Regions from separate parts of the Homo sapiens genome. Here region 1 is linked to region 2. The links come from fine-mapping of genetic effects on gene expression. Tissue or cell type: whole blood. Region 2 holds a variant in brackets; the other region holds the start of a gene. All regions are shown on one strand. Distances are from middle to middle.

Evidence for each region. PIP is the estimated chance that this variant, and not a neighbour inherited with it, causes the effect.
Region 1: it holds the start of EEF1A2, and the variant in region 2 is fine-mapped to the expression of EEF1A2 in whole blood (TOPMed, PIP above 0.99).

The regions. Positions count from the first base shown.
Region 1 is chr20:63,497,531-63,500,277 of GRCh38, reverse strand. EEF1A2 (eukaryotic translation elongation factor 1 alpha 2) reads left to right here and starts at 1,195. Exons shown (of 8, transcript NM_001958.5): 1 at 1,195-1,220; 2 at 2,444-2,658. The coding sequence starts at 2,515. LOC124904955 (a long non-coding RNA gene) reads right to left here and starts at 1,996. Exons shown (of 2, transcript XR_007067719.1): 1 at 1,655-1,996. RefSeq lists enhancers at 561-1,130, 1,391-2,186.
Region 2 is chr20:63,546,581-63,549,327 of GRCh38, reverse strand. It overlaps SRMS (src-related kinase lacking C-terminal regulatory tyrosine and N-terminal myristylation sites), which reads left to right and starts at 1,579. Exons shown (of 8, transcript NM_080823.4): 1 at 1,579-2,220. The coding sequence starts at 1,865. RefSeq lists an enhancer at 1,865-2,506. The variant C/T (reference allele first, on the strand shown) is at 1,525.

The DNA of each region.
Region 1 (2,747 bases), 49 kb after region 2:
CACCCAGTGGGAACTCAGGGCTGAGAGGACAGGTGCCAGGGCTCTGCCCCCACTCAGCACACACCTCCCGAGACCCCGCTGGCAGGAAGATCCGAGTGCGTGGGGGTGGGGGGGCAGCGTGGGAGGGAAGACCTGAATACCTGGGTGAGACGACAGGATCTTGGGGTCTGGAGAAAGCCCCTAACCTTGGTCTTCACACAACACATGGCTGCCACATCCCCTTCCTCACAACCCACGTTGGTCATTACCCGCGTGTGCCAGGACCTCAGGGACTCCCCACTTCCTACAGAGCGTGGCCCGGTCTTTGGCTTGGCATCCTGACCCCATATGAGCATCAGCTACAAGGCGCTGAGGTGCAGCGGGGTGGGGCGCTGGGCGGGGGGGCCTGGGTCTGTCTGGATCTGACTCGCCCTTGGCTGGCGCTGTTTCCCAGCAGCAGCCGGAGGTCGGCGCACCCGGAGGGGAGGGTCCCTGGAAGATGTCAGTGGGTCTGGGAGCGGGCTTCCGGCGTTCCCTGCACCGTGGGAGACCAGCCTCTCAGGGGGAGGGTGGTTCTGCGCTGGATCCTCGGGGCCTGTCATGGTGCGCCCAGGAGGGCAGGCACGTGAGGACAGGGACTGGAAACCAGCAGATTTCCACCCTGAGGCCTGCACCCCCGGGCCTCATTAGGGAGAGCCCCTCAGAGCCGGGCTTCGTTGGTTCTGGGGCGTCCCCCATGAGCAGGGCCGGGGAGGGGCCGGTAGACCCAGGCTCGTCTCCCAGGCTGCAGCCCACCTGCTCCCCTCCCCCGCCTGCCGGCTCCGGTCCTCGGCGTCTGCCCTGTCCCCGGGGACCGCTTTTCGCGGCTCAAGCGTGTTCCTGCCCTGAGCCGGCTCTCGCCCCGTCTCCCGGGCCCGCCGCGCTCTCCCCGCGCCGTCTCCGTCCCGGTCCCTCCCTCCCGCCGCCTCCCTGCCCTGCCCCCCGCCCCGCCCCCGCCCGCGGCGCGTTTCTCCCCCGCCTCCCGCGTCCGTCTTTGCAGCCCGCGCCTCCCGCATCGCCTCGCGTCCCCGTGGCGCCCGCCCGCGCGCGTCCGCGCCCCGCCCCCTCCCGCGCGGTTCCGCATTGGCGTGCTGCAGGGCGCGGTGCACTGCGCCGCCACCGTCAATAGGTGGACCCCCTCCCGGAGATAAAACCGCCGGCGCCGGCGCCGCCAGTCCCTCTGGCTGAGACCTCGGCTCCGGGTAAGGACGCTCGGCCCCCGGGCCTCCGCCCCCGCCCCCGTCTTCCGAAGAGGGACCCCCGGGGCCGGTCCTGGGGGGCAGAGGGTGGCCGGGCCCCGCACCCGCCCCCGCGCGCGCCCGGAGTCCGGCTTCCGGGGGTCCCCGCGTCGGCCGGGCTGGGCCCGGGGTGGGGGGCGGCGCGGGGCGGCGGGGCCGGGTCCTGGGCGGCGATCGCCCCGTAGCCGTGACCTTGGGGCCGCGGGGACCCTGCGGGCCGGGGGCTGATGGGGGTCGGGCTTCGGGGCGCTGGGCCAGAGGACGCTGAGGGAGGTGGTGAGATCTGGGGGCCCTGGCCTCCCCACCCCCACCCGTGTTCCCACCCCAGGGTGGCTTCTGTCCTCTTTCCCTCCCCCAGCCACCTGTCCGCGAGGAGCAGCGTGGGTTTCTCCACTGACCTCTGTGATGGGACAGGGCTGTGACCCAGGGTCCTGAGTCACAGGGAGGGGGGGAGGGAGGGTGCCCCCTATACCCCCACGGGGCCGAGGGCATCTCCACCTGGCACTTGCTGGGCTCGGCAGGGCCGGGTCCTCCTTCCTCAGGCTGGAACAGGGACCCCCACCTCCCGGCCGCTGTCTGTCCCTGTGAGAGTCCGGGAGGGGGGTGCCTAGAGCTATTCTGGGTTCCTAATCTGGGCAGCGCATCTCCGTCGGGGCTCTGGCCCAGCCTGCCGGGCAGGGATGAGGGGAAGATGGCGCCGTCCCTGCCTGAGGAGGGGAGTGGGGAGCAGTGGCCATCTCTCCCCGGTGGCAGCGGGTGGGGGTGGGGCGCCGTGTCCCTGGCCCTGCCGCCGGGGAGGGGAGTGCGCGTGCAGGACAGGGCCCTGGAGCGCTGGGCAGGTGACTCATCACCCGGCTCTGCTGGTCACGGACGTACCCAGCCTGGCGCTGCGTGGTCTCTCCAAATGGTGGCTAACCCCTTCCCAAGGAGCAGCCCGCGGGCTCCAACGCCCAGTTATTTACAGCAGATGGGGCTGTTTGGGCTCAAGTGTGGGGTGGGGGCAGTGCACAGCCTCTGCTTGCCCTGGCCAGGCCCAGCTGTGGGTGGGGGCCCTTCCCTCCCCACCAAACATGGGGGCTTGGTTTGTGGGCAGGGATGCCTGTCCAGCCTGTGCCAGGACAGTCTCTGCTGGTGTCTCCCCCTGGGGCTCCCCATCACCGGTCTCCCCACCACCACTGGCCCCACAGAATCACTGCAGCCCCCCTCGCCCTGAGCCAGAGCACCCCGGGTCCCGCCAGCCCCTCACACTCCCAGCAAAATGGGCAAGGAGAAGACCCACATCAACATCGTGGTCATCGGCCACGTGGACTCCGGAAAGTCCACCACCACGGGCCACCTCATCTACAAATGCGGAGGTATTGACAAAAGGACCATTGAGAAGTTCGAGAAGGAGGCGGCTGAGGTGAGCTCCCCAGGCTATGGTCTTGGCCCCCTGAGAAGGAACCCCCAACTCCCGTGGTGGCCAGGCTTGGCATCTCCCAGCCCCAGGGC
Region 2 (2,747 bases):
GGAGACGGCGGTGGGTGTGGGGAGGAGACGGCGGCGGGGGGAGTGGAGGGGAGGAGACGGCGGGGGTGGGTTGTGGGGAGGAGACGGCGTCGGGGGCGGGAGGAGACGGGCAGCGGGTGGGGGGAGGAGAGGGCGGCGGGGGCGGGAGGAGAGGGCGGCGGGGGGAAGCGCGGGAGGAGAAGGCGCTGGGGCCCCTCGAAGGCCACCCCCAATGTAGTATTTACAATTCTCCACATTTCTCAACACCCCCCACCACCCCCAGCAGGGCACCTCTCTGGTGCAGAGCCTGCCCTGAGCCTGGCGATGTCCAGTCTCCCAGGGCCCCTGCTGGCTCCAGGCTATCAGCCCGGACACAGCTTGGCTGCTGGGGTGCCCTGAGAGCCAGGCCACGGGTGTCACTGCCACCCCACAATGCACACACCAGTCCCCAGACGTGAGGTTTCTGAGAAGCCCATCTGTGACTCCAGGGCAGGCAGGTGCGAGGGGCTTGTCATTGGCTGGACACTGGTCACGCCTATTGGAGGGATGCATTCAGCCACACGCATGAAGTGGGGGCATGGATGCGTGTGAGATGTGGGAAAGGGGCGTGAGGCTCCCTGAAGGCCACCCAGGTGCGGAAGGGGCTGCTGGGGGAGGCCGGCAGGAGGAGTGAGAGACTGCAGATGGCCTCACCCCACCCCCGTGCCTCAGGACCCAGAGGGGAGGTGGGAGGAGTGAGAGACTGCAGATGGCCCCCACCCCACCCCACTCAGGACCCGGAGGGGATGTGGGAGGAGAGAGAGACTGCAGATGGCCACCACCCCATCCTCCTGCCTCAGGACCCTGTACCGTGCTGCTGGGTTTTGCTGGGATTTGCTCCCCCAGTCCTGCCCCGATCTGGGGACCTACCTGAGCGGGCAGAGTTTGCTTCAGCATGCGGGGGCTTGGCGCTGTCCAGGGAGAGGGTGGGAGGTCCCCAGCCAGGGACTCACCCGCCGCCCCTTCTCCGTGTGCTCATCCCCCTGAACTGGGGCCAGGCGTCCGCAGCCTCCACTTCCCCGCAGTGGCCTTTGGGTATGGCCTGGGCATTGACTGACTCAGAAGCCGGTCATCGGGCAGCATGGGGCATCTGGGTGCCTGGCCTGCGGCCGAGCTCCCTGCAATCAGCATCTCGTTTTACTGCATGAAAGCCGGGGTGCTGAGAGCCCCCTCACTCGCCTGTCCTCAGAATTTACTGCAGAGGCCGGAGGCTCGGCACCTGGTGCAGGGTTAATGATGTTAAAATATCTGGCCAACACTTAAATAAGCAGGCAATTTTTCACCTGAGTGCAGCTCAGGCTTGGCAACCACTGCAGGTGCTGAACAGCAGCGCTTCTCCGTGGAACCCCCACTTCTCCGTGGGCACGGGCGGCTGTTGGACTGTGGTGCCCTTGGGCATGGGCCAGGCCTGACTGGGCAGAGCCATTCCGCCTGCCTGGGCCTTGCAGAGGGCGGGAGAGAGGCTGGCCCTGCCCACCCCGCCCTCCTCGGGCCCCTCCTGGAGCC[C/T]GCCCCCGCCCCAGCCCAAGCTGCCCTCTGCCGTCGGGTTGGGGAGGGGACGGTGCACTCCAGACGCCAAGGAGGTCGAGGACAGGAGGTGCTGTCGGTGTGCCTGAGGCAGGGGGTCCGCCCTGCGCCCCACCCAGCCCCAACGCCAGCCCGGACGCCGGTGGGAACCGTGTGCCTCCTGGATCCAGGGGACCTCTGAGTGACCGCAGGGCCGGGGTCCCCTGTCACCCCACGGCCAGGGCAGGGAGCGCTGGACACCGGGTCCCACCGGCCCTGCCAGTTCCTCTTCCGGGCTCGCGGGCTCCCATGGCCCTCGGGCCCAGCGTGGTGACCCCGGGGGATGGAGCCGTTCCTCAGGAGGCGGCTGGCCTTCCTGTCCTTCTTCTGGGACAAGATCTGGCCGGCGGGCGGCGAGCCGGACCATGGCACCCCCGGGTCCCTGGACCCCAACACTGACCCAGTGCCCACGCTCCCCGCCGAGCCTTGCAGCCCCTTCCCTCAGCTCTTCCTTGCGCTCTATGACTTCACGGCGCGGTGTGGCGGGGAGCTGAGTGTCCGCCGCGGGGACAGGCTCTGTGCCCTCGAAGAGGGGGGCGGCTACATCTTCGCACGCAGGCTTTCGGGCCAGCCCAGCGCCGGGCTCGTGCCCATCACCCACGTGGCCAAGGCTTCTCCTGAGACGCTCTCAGACCAACCGTGAGTACCTCGGCCTCGGAGTCAGAGCCTGCCTCGCCCCCAGCTGGGGAGTCCAGAACAACGGCAGGATTTTGAGTTGGAAATCGCATGTCCGTGGCTATCTGTTCATTCATTCGTTCATCCACGCATTCATTCAGGGACAGCTGATGGGCCCCGGGCCGGCAGGTGTGGTAGGAAAACAGCAGTGTCCGCTGTGGGCTGCCGAGAGGGAGAGGAGGCTCCGGCAGGCGTGGTCAGGTCCTGTGGGGGGGAGCATCAGCTGCACCAGCTGGACACCCAGCAGGCGGTTCCTCCAGGACCCTGCCTGGCTGGCCAGGCCCTCCCGCCCTCACACAGGGAGTCCAGTGTTCATGGATCGGTCACTGCTTGGAGGGCAGGGGCTGGGGGCTGGGAGGCACCAGATGACAGGAGCTCCAGGAGCTCTGGGTGACGGCAGGTGAGCAGGGGCTGGGGGCTGGGGGCTGAGACAGGGGCCCATGCTCCAGGAACTCTGGGTGAGGGCAGGTGAGCAGGGGCTGGGGGCTGAG